2 separate regions of the Homo sapiens genome follow, and region 2 is linked to region 1. Evidence: fine-mapped expression QTL. A gene starts in region 1. The other region holds a variant in brackets. All regions are shown on one strand. Distances are between the middles of the regions. Region 1 holds the start of EHMT1 (euchromatic histone lysine methyltransferase 1). Region 2 overlaps EHMT1 (euchromatic histone lysine methyltransferase 1).

Region 1 (5,189 bases):
AAAAACAAAACCCCACAAAAAACTCGTGGGACTGTAGGGTACAGCCCCCCACCCTCATAGCATGACAGTTTATTTCTTGAACAGTCCAGAGGGGGCAGATCCTGGCCTTGTGGCAGAGTTGTCATTCCTACATAGTGGTTCCCATCCCTGGCTCCCAGATGGCTGTTGACAGCTTTCACCACTGCCCAGCCTAATGGTGGGACTTTTGAGGGACAGACTGGGAAATGGATTGTCACTTTTTGTCTCTGACCTGTCCCCTTCCTGTTGGAAATGTGGTCTTTAGCCAGGCAGTCCTGTACTTGGCTAAAATTTTACTAATTGTGGGACAGGCAGCATGAATATTGGAGAACAGCAGAAAGTGTACCACAGGTGGGGTCATCTGTGAAGCGCCTCCTGGAAGCAGTGCAGTATATGGTTGAAAGGAAGGCCTCCTGGGCTGAATCCCATCACTGCCTCTCACCACTCCCTTGCTTCAGTTCAGTCACTTATAAAATGTGGGTAAGAACAGTGCCTGCCTCTCAGGACTGACCTGAAGTCTGCAGTGTTAGCATGTCACGTGCTGAGAGCAGCATCTTGACATAAGTGCTGAGGGGCACACAAGGGTAGCAGCTGATGGAAAAATGGAGTGAAAAAGCTGCCTGCAGCTGCTTCCCACACCTTCACTTAGGGTGGATGTTTGCTTGGTGAAGGATTTTTCTTCACATTCTAACTCCCTTTATTCAGTCAACAATTTTTTTGTTGTTGTTGTTGAGACAGAGTCTTGCTCTGTTGCCCAGGCTGGAGTGCAGTGGCACAATCTCAGCTCATTGCAAGCTCTGCCTCCCGGGTTCATGCCATTCTCCTGCCTCAGCCTCCCGAGTAGCTGGGACTACAGGCGCCCAGCACCACTCCCGGCTATTTTTTGTATTTTTAGTAGAGATGGGGTTTCACCATGTTAGCCAGGCTGGTCTCCATCTCCTGACCTCATGATCTGCCCACCTCGGCCTCCCAAAGTGCTGGGATTACAGGCGTGAGCCACCGCACCCGGCCCAGTCAACAAATATTTTGTCTCCTGTACACCAGGTATTGTTCTAGGCACCATGGACTTACATTCTAGTAGGGAGACAATATTCCAAATCAGGATGTGGGAGAGTCACATGACACACACTGTGATGGAGCCAAGTAAGTCAACGAAGACAGGTATGGGGGGGCAGTATCATTTTAACTAGGGAGGAGAGGGAAGGCTTCCCTTAAGAGGTGATATTTCAACTCAAGGATGGTAAAGAGGGAAGCCACAAAGACACTCGAAATAAAGGTTTCAGGGAAGGGACAGACAGCAGGGGTGGCGGAGAGGTGGGTGCGGGGCAGGAGGGCCATGAAGGCGCTCGTGTCTCCTGCGAGGGCTCAGGGTGCTCGGCCTGTCATAAATGGACTTAGGCTTTGACAGAGCAGTTTAGCTGCCCTAAAGAAACCTGGGAAGGTTCCCTTGGCACTTGGGATTGTCCGTTTCCTTTTCTGTCTATGTGCGCTGTCTATGCTGGACTTGAGATAATTCTCCGGAGTCCGACTCACCAGGAGACTCGGGTGTCACCCAGATTGACCTTCAAGGCTCATTTCTTGTCAGTCCAGTACCCGTCCCCTCGGTTCACACGACCATCCAGAAACCTCAAATTCAGTCCATGCTTCTTGTTTTGGGTCTCGGGGCTGGGATAAGGCGGGCTGACCACCGCGGGGCATGTAGGTAGTTTCCGTGGTGCTGGGGGCGCTCTCCAGGGAAGGCTACTTGGTCTGCAGAAAAGGCCTTGACTTGTGCATACCTGGGCAGCGGGCCTATGAGTGGCAGCGAGAGCGGGGTAACCAGAGAGGGCACACCCCCCAACCGGAGCGCCCCCCAGGTTGGCATCTCCACAACTGTAGAACCTCCCCCATCAGGGCAACCCTCCCGATTGGGACACCGCCCCCAGCCAGACACATCCTCCTAGCAGAACACCCATGCTTAGCCGGAGCCGCTCCCCCGCCAGACACCTCCCCACCGGGAAACCCTCCCCAGTGGGACACCCCAGCCAGTCCAGGTATTCCCGCCGTTAGGGACACCCCCTCCAGCCGGAGCATACCCTCGGCAGGGGCATTCCTCCCAACCGAGGGAACCCCGCCGCAACGGGAACCTGCCTGAACCAGAGCACCCTCCCGCGCCGGGGACACCCCACAGGCGGCTCCCGCGCCAGGCCGCGGCCCAGGGAGTCAGCCTTCCGCGCAAGCCGGCGAAATCAAAGTGCGTCCGGGGTTAGAGGTCAGAGGTCGGAGCCGCGGGTCTTTCTCCTTCTTCGGCCAGCCCACCAAAACGTCAATTTAGAATGAGACATGTGTTGAAAATGGGACGGCTACTCCCCATCCACTACTACGACTCTGGCGGGCGGGTTCTCCAGCTCCAGGTCTCCTACCCCGCGGGCGCGCGTTCCGGTTCCGGCCGCCGCAGGCCCGGCGCCTGGGGCGCCGCACGCCTGGTTCCAGTGCGCAGGCGCCGCACCGGTCGAGCTCCAACGCGCAGGCGCGGGCGCAGGCGCAGGCGCAGACGTAGGCGATCGGCCCCGCCCCGACTCTGGGCCGCGAGGCGCGGGCGGGGCGATGGCGCGCGGGAGGGGCGGGGCCACGCTGCGGGCCCGGGCCATGGCCGCCGCCGATGCCGAGGTGAGCAGCGGGGCCGGCGGGGGGCGGCGCGGGGGCGGCGGGCAGCGGCGGAGGCGGCGCGGGGGCGAAGAACCGGGCGGGGCGGCGGCAGGCGGCCGGCGGGCGGGCGGGGCCCCGGGTCCCCCCGCCGCCGCCGCCGCCGCTGCCGCCGCCTCAGGCCGAGGCCGGGCCGAGGCCGCCGGGCGTCCGGCCCGCGCTCCCGCCGGGCGCGCTTTGTGCGCGGCGCGGGCCGGGCGGCGGCTGGGGGAGCGGGCGGGGGCGCAGGTGAGGGAGGCGACCGCGTACCTGTGCCCGCGCCCCCCACGGACCCCGTGCCGCCGCCGCCGCCCGCAAGCCGGATCTGCGGGGAGGGCCTCGGCCAGGGTGCCGGGGAGGTGCGGAGGACAAAAGGAAAAGTAGCGGGGCCGGCCAACTTTGGAGCGCCGGCCGAGGCGAGGCTGTCCCTCCTCTCGGAGCTCTTCCTTCGCTTCGTTGACCTTTCACTTTGTTCTGAGTAGGATGGCACCATCTTTAACGAAAAGTTGGCCAGTCCCGGCGTGTTTCTCCCCAGACAATGCTGCTCCAGCCCTGCTGGCTGTCAGAAGCAGGAAAGCACGCTCGGTGGGAAGCTTGCGGACTCAAGTTTATTTCCAAACCAGCAGCTTTAAAGGGCTCTCGATGTAAAAAGTTCACATTCTTTTGTTAATGGTCTCGGCCTTCCCCGTGCTCATTCTCAAGGATAGTTTGTTTCCTTGCTTAGGAAAGGAAGCAGCGTAGAGATTAAAGTCTTGCGAGTGGACCACTGGCGTCCCTCTGAAGGAAAAGCAAGCAGGAGGTGGTGTGTCCGTGGAGATGCAGAAATAGTGTGGTCCTAGGGCTGAGATAAGGGACCGGTTTGGAGAAAACTGTCAGCGTAGAAGTATTTCTTTGAAATTAACTGTCTAGTAACAGTTGAGACTTCTAAAGCTTAGAAAGTTAAGGTGTAGTAAGAAGCCGTACAGTATCCTGGTGCATAGACTTAACACTGTATTTTAACTCAGGTAATGTATGGCCTTTTTGTTTATTTTTTTCCTGCATTTTTGGGGGGTGTTGAAATAAGTAAACTGGGAAGGTGCAGGGGAATTCTTAAATTCAATGCAAGGAGTTTTTGCTGAGTATCTGCAGCATTCAAGGAATTAATATTAGTCACTGAGAACAAAAAGCGAAATTAGAAAATTTCAAGTCACTTCTAGGCTTGTAGGGGAGAAGACGTGTAGTGATGAATTCTATCATTTATGAAGTACCCACTGGATCCCACACACTGTGCAAGACCTTTAGATCAGGCGCCTCCCTCGGTTTTCTTCACCCTGTGCAGCAGGTGCTGTTATTTCCTTTTTTAAATTATTATTTATTATTATTATTTTTTGAGACAGGATCTCCCTTTGTCACTCAGGCTGGAATGCAGAGGCATGATCACTGCTCACTGCAGCTTCGACCACCCAGGCTCAAAGGAGTCTCCCACCTCGGGTGCTGCCACACCTGGCCAATTTTTTTGTATTTTTTTGGTAGAGACCGGGGTTTCACCATGTTGCCCAGGCTGGTCTTGAACTTTTGGACTCCAGCGATCTGCCTGCCTCCGCCTCCCTAAGTGCTAGGATTACAGACATGAGCCATTGTGCCCGTCCTGTTGTTTCCTGTTTAGCTGAGGAGGAAGGGTTAGATAACTTGGCCAGTCGGTTGTAGGACCAGCACTAGTACAGTGTTGGGCACGTAGTAGGTGTTTAATACATGACCGATGAGCAAATGGCTCCAGATGTCTCTGGTTCCATAGGCAGCCTTGAATAGGGCTTTACACACCTGATGAGAATGACAGCCTGTGTTGACTGAGCCCTGACTTGTGTCCAACCCTGCCATAGTGCCAGTGCCTTGCATGAATTCAATAATTTGAGCCTAGCAGCAACCTTAAGAGGTAGGTACTGTTACCTCCCCGTTTATAAATGAGAAGACAGGCGCAGTGAGGCCCAAGATTGAAGAGCTTGTGGCCAAGAAGATGGAGTTGCAGGTGGTTTGGCCATAGAGCTGATGCTTGCTAAATGTGTTATATCTGTGATGGTCATTTTAGGTTAATAAAAGCTCTGTTTTTAGATTGATAATTCTAAGGGTTTATCATCAAGGTGTATGAGAAGGTGAGGGAGCCCCTGTGTGTAGCGCAGCAACTCTGGCCTTCTGGACAGTAGGTAGGCATGTGATCACTGTTGTCACTAAACCTGGGAAATGATTCCTGGGTCAGGGTTCATTAATTGCCAAATGATTAAAGTAATAAAGCTGACACTGGAAACTTATCTAACTTCATTTCTTTTCCTTGATTTACAAAGATAGTCAATACATTTTCCTACCAAAAAGAACTGGCCAGCCGTGGTGGCTCATGCCTGTAATCCTAGCAGTTTAGGAAGCCGAGGTGGGCGGATCACTTGAGGTCAGGAGTTCGAGACCAGTCTGGCCAACATGGTTGAAACCCTGTCTCTACTGAAAATACAAAAATTATCTGGGCATAGTGGTGTGTG
Region 2 (5,189 bases), 22 kb after region 1:
TTCTTGGTCATTCTAGCTAAAGTTTTGTGAATTATGTTGAATTTTTCAGAGAAGCAACTTTTTTTTTTTTTTAAGATGGAGTCTCGCCCTTTTGCCCAGGCTGGAGTGCAGTGGTGCGATCTCGGCTCACTGCAAGCTCCGCCTCCTGGGTTCAAGCAATTCTCCTGCCTCTGCCTCCTGAATAGTTGGGAATATAGGCGTGCGCCACCATGCCCAGCTAATTTTTTGCATTTTTAGGAGACGGAGTTTCACCATGTTGGCTGTGCTGGTCTCGCGCTCCTGACCTCAGGTGATCCACCCACCTCAGCCTCCCAAGTAGCTGAGATTACAGGCACCCGCCACCACGCCCGGCTAATTTTTGTATTTTTAGTAGAGATGATGTCTCACCATGTTGGCCGAGGTGGTCTCAAACTCCTGACTTCAAATGATCCACCCGCCTTGGCCTCCCAAAGTGTTGGGATTGCAGGCATGAGCCACTGCACCCGGCCTAGTTTTTTACTAGTTTCTTAATGCTTTTAGCTATGTTATAGAATAAATTGCATTCCCCTAAAAAATATGTTGAAGTCCTAAACCCCATACTTCAGAATTTGACCTTATTTGGAAATAGGGTCATTGCAGATTAGTTAAGATGAAATCATAGTTGAGTAGGGTAGGCCTCTAATCCAGTATGACTTACGTGTCCTCATAAAAAAAAAAGGATGCCTTGTGAACACAGACATGCACAGAAGGAAGACAGCATGCGGACACACAGGGAGAAGTGGCGCATGACTGGGGTGATGCTTCCATAAGCCAAGGAGTGTCAGGGACGGCCAGCAGACCCCAGAGCCTGGCCGAGGCAGGGGATGGCACTCCAAAGCCATTACAGACCACAAGGCCTACTGACACCTTCATTGTGGACTTCCAGCCTTCAGAACTTCGAGACCATACATTTCTATTGTTACATGTGTCCTAGGAAAAAACAGGCTGCTTCCTATAAATGTTGATATGTTGTATTTTCATTTTTATTCAGTTCAGAATATTTTCTATTTTCCCTTGTGACTTTAGAAGTGTGTCATTTAATTTCTAAATATTTAGGTATTTCCTGGATTTCTTTGTTTTGTTGATTTCTAATGTAATTCCTGTATGGTCAGAATTATACTTTGTATAGTTTCAGTGTGTTTAATTTGTTAGATTAAAAAAAAAATCCCGTATTATATTCTGTCCTGGGGAATGTTTCATCAGTGCTTGAAAATAATGTGCATTATGAATTTATTAGGTGGAATGTTCCCTATATGTCAGATTGAATTGGTTGATAGTATTAAGTCTTCCTTATTCTTTCTCATTTTCTTTCTAGTTCTATTAGTTATTGAGAGTAGAGTATGAGATCTACAGTACTGTCGAATTTTACATTTTCACTTTCAGTTCTGTTGGTTTTTGCCTCGTGTTTTGAGACTATGTTATCTTGCGTGTGTTTATAGTTGTTACATCTGCCTGGGTGTTTTGACACTTCTCTCATTATGAAATGTCCCTCTTTGTCTCTATAAATGTTTTTGTTTTAAAGTCTATTTTGTCTGATGTCAGTATAGCCACTTCAGTTTTTTTATGGTTTATTTTTGCATACTATATCTTTTTCTGGCCTTTTAATCTCTTTGTATCTTCAATCGAAGGGATGTCTCTTACAGTCCTTTCCATCTGAGATCGGATCTTGTAGATTCAGCAGTTGAATCATATATATGTATTTTTCTTACCTGATAGAAGAGATTTTATTTTTAAAGTGTCACCTTAGACTGCAAGGATGTCTGTTGTACCTCCCCATTAATCAGCCAGAGGAGGAGCTGTGATATCAGAATGCCCACTCAACCCACCAGACATTTGAGACCCACCCTTTGCTGGCCTTCTGTAACCTTATTTATTTAGAGACGGAGTCTCGCTCTTGTTGCCCAGGCTGGAGTGCAATGGCGCGATCTTGGCTCACCGTAACCTCTGCCTCCCGGGTTCGAGTGATTGTCCTGCCTCTGCCTCCCGAGTAGCTAGGATTACAGGCATGTGCCACTGTGCCCGGCTAAGTTTTATATTTTTAGTAGAGATGGGGTTTC[G/A]CTGTGTTGGCCAGGCTGTTCTTGAACTCCTGAACTCAGGTGATCCGCCTGCCTCGGCCTCCCAAAGTGCTGGGATTACGGGTGTGAGCCACCGTGCCTGGCCTGTAACCTTATTTTTTAAAGCTTTTAATTTTAATTTTTGTTTTGTTTTATTTTTGTGTGTTTTAGAGACCTGGTCTTGCTGTTACCCTGGCTGGAGTGCAGTGGCGTGATCATAGCTCACTGCAGCCTTGACCCTGGGCTCAAGCAGTCCTCCCACCTTGGCTTCCTGATCAGCTGGGACCACTGGCATCTGCCACTATGTCCAGCTAATTTTTAAATTTTTTGTAAAGATGGGGTCTTCCTATGTTGCTCAGGCTGGTTTTGAACTCCTGGCCTCAAGTGATCCTCCCATCTTGGTCTCCCAAAGTGCTAGGATTACAGGTGTGCACCCCTGTGCCTGGTCTGAAATTTTCTTTTTTTAATCAAGAGCAAGTAGATACATGTTTTCTCTGAGCCCAATATGCAGAGAAGGAAAAAATGCTAGAATTCTCTGCATTATAGGGGCCTGGCGCCCTTTAGCTTCCAACAGTGCAAAGGGGGCAGAAAGTTGTTCTTTTTTCCATAGAACATGGTGATGTTGATTCCATACAAGTTTGTTGAGATAGGAAGGGATAAAAATGAGTTTGAAACAGAAAGAGGTAGAGATTCTTTTCACATTTTATTCTCCTCAAGGTATTTCCCCCCCAGATAAGTTGAGATCCACGGTGTAGACAAAAGAGACCTCAAGAACTGGGTGAGCACAAGAGGGAAAAAGCAAGACTGCACCTTGCTCCCGGGAACTGGAGACAGCTTTAAAAAAGGAAGGTTCTAATCCATGTGTGTTCTATTAGTTATCTTCTCCTTATCCCGTTCCTCATCAGTGTCTTCCAGTTCCTCCTCCTCATCATCTTCGTCTTCTCCTTCTTTATCATCCATATTGGGAACCAAGGAGCACTGTGATGAATTTGGCCAAGTATGGTCTTTGCTGACCTCTCCTAACTCATCTGCACCTGCGTCAGAATGGCCAGTAAACCAGGTGAAGAACCTGTCTGGTTCCTCAGGATGCCTCTTCCTACTGGCTTTATTCTGCATTTGACTTGAAGAGTTTCCTTTCCAGATTTCCATTTGATTTCCGTGGACTTTGAAGATGGATCATGACTCTCATTCAGATGAAATTCTTTGAGAGAGCTTTATTTTTGAAGTAAGGATTTTCGTCAAAATAAAAACCTATTCTGTAACCTGATTTAATATCTTCAAATTCTGTCACTTCAGCACTGGTCAAACAATGCAGTGCCTCTTCATCCTCCTCCCAAGCAGTGCAGACGCTTGTGGATGGCTGACAAATGTTATTACCCAGAAATTGGGGATTTTGGGAATCAATTCTCATCTGCCCTGAAGAACGTGGTTGGCCGAATTTGTCTATGTTCGCTCTCCCAGTCCGCTTGCCGCTCACTTGCTAAGCCTGTTTCTGAAGCCTGTTTTGTGCTGTGCTTCCTCGTGGGCTTGGTTGCCGCTTGTTCTGTTCCTCTCTTCCTCTGGCCTCTGTCAGGGGCTGGCGCCATGTCTTCCTTTCAGGCAGGGGCAGAGACGGGTGTTTGGGGGTCATTCCGGGAGGAGAGTCTGGACCCAAGGGCCTCCTTGCTCATCAGGAAGAAGCTCATAGGACTAAGATCACATTTTTTTTTTTTTTGACATGGAGTCTCGCTCTGTCACCCAGGCTGGAGTACAGTGGCATGACCTTGGCTCATGGCAACCTCTGCCCCCATGCCCTCCAACTCCATGGTTCAAGCTGTTCTCCTGCCTCAGCCTCCTGAGTAGCTGGGACTACAGGCACCCACCACCATGCCTGGCTAATTTTTGTATTTTTAGTAGAGACGGAGTTTCGTCAAGTTGGCCAAGCTGGTCCTGAACTCCTGACCTCAGGTGATCCACCCGCCTCGGCCTCCCAAAGTGCTGGGATTACAGGTGTGAGCCACTGCGCCCGGCCCCAAATTTTTTAATCTATTCCCCCAGTCTCTACTTTTCATGTGGGACAGGTAATGCGTTTCATCTAATGTAATTACTGAAAGGTAGGGTTTATACTTGTCGATTTTGTATTTGCTTTCTGCGTCTTCTGTCTTTTTTGTTACTTTCTGCCTCAGTTAGTTTTTGTTCTTCATGGAGATGGAGTTTCACTATGTTGCCCAGGCTGGAGCGCAGTGAGTATTCATAGGCATGATCATAGTGCACCGTGGCCTTGAACTCCCGGGCTCACAGGATCCTCCCACCTCAGCCTCCTGAGTAGCTGGGACTGCAGGCGTACCACAACGCCTGACTCATTGCTTTCTTCTTTTGTGTTAGATATTTTCTAGTGTATACCATTTTAATTCCCTTGCTGTTTATTTGACTGTATTTTTTATTTGTTTTCTTGGTTGTCCTGGGGATTACAATTTAGTATATTAATTTTTGATAATGTAGTTTGTATTAATACTATATTACAATACTATATGAAATATTTATTTGGGCATAGCTTAATTTCTTTTGCCCTTCTTGTACTGTTATTGTCATACAAATTACATTACACTGTGTGCCCATCTACGCAGATTTATAGTTGCTGCTTTACGCAATTGTCTTTCAAATCATATAGGAGAAAAAACAAATTATAAATTAACAAATACATTTATACTGTCTTATGTAGCTGCTTTTATACTTTACCTGTGTAGCTGCTTTTACTGGCGCTCTTGATTGCATTCCCCTCCCCTCCCCTCTTGACAGGGTCTCGCTCTGTCACCCAGGTGGGAGTACAGTGGCACAATCATAGCACTGCAGCCTTGACCTCCTGGGCTAAAGAGATCCTCCTGCCTCAGCCTCCCGAGTAGTTGGGACTATGGGTGCGTGCCACTATTCCCTGCTGATTTTTAATTTTTTTTTTGTAGAGATGGGGTCTCACTGTGTTGCCCAGGCTGGTCTCCAACTCCTGGTCTTAGAAGATCCCTCCTACTTGAGTCTTCCAAGGTGTTGCGGTTGCAGGCATGAGCCACCGTGCCTGGCCTTGGTGCTCTCTATTCATGTGGGCTTGAGTTACTGTCTAGTGTCCTTTCATTTATCCTGAAG

The links. PIP is the estimated chance that this variant, and not a neighbour inherited with it, causes the effect. A credible set is the group of variants that fine-mapping cannot tell apart.
Region 2: its variant is the best candidate, but not a certain one, in a credible set for the expression of EHMT1 in whole blood (INTERVAL, PIP 0.56).

What each region holds. Positions count from the first base shown.
Region 1 is chr9:137,616,383-137,621,571 of GRCh38, forward strand. It overlaps EHMT1 (euchromatic histone lysine methyltransferase 1), which reads left to right and starts at 2,623. Exons shown (of 27, transcript NM_024757.5): 1 at 2,623-2,667. The coding sequence starts at 2,647. ARRDC1-AS1 (ARRDC1 antisense RNA 1) reads right to left here and starts at 2,513. Exons shown (of 3, transcript NR_122035.1): 1 at 2,149-2,513; 2 at 1,552-1,809. RefSeq lists enhancers at 2,316-2,365, 3,031-3,749 and a silencer at 2,406-2,705.
Region 2 is chr9:137,638,057-137,643,245 of GRCh38, forward strand. The region is part of intron 1 of EHMT1 (euchromatic histone lysine methyltransferase 1); the gene reads left to right. It also overlaps the pseudogene SETP5. Among named protein-coding and RNA genes, the nearest start is that of EHMT1, 22 kb to the left of the region's middle. The variant G/A (reference allele first, on the strand shown) is at 2,076.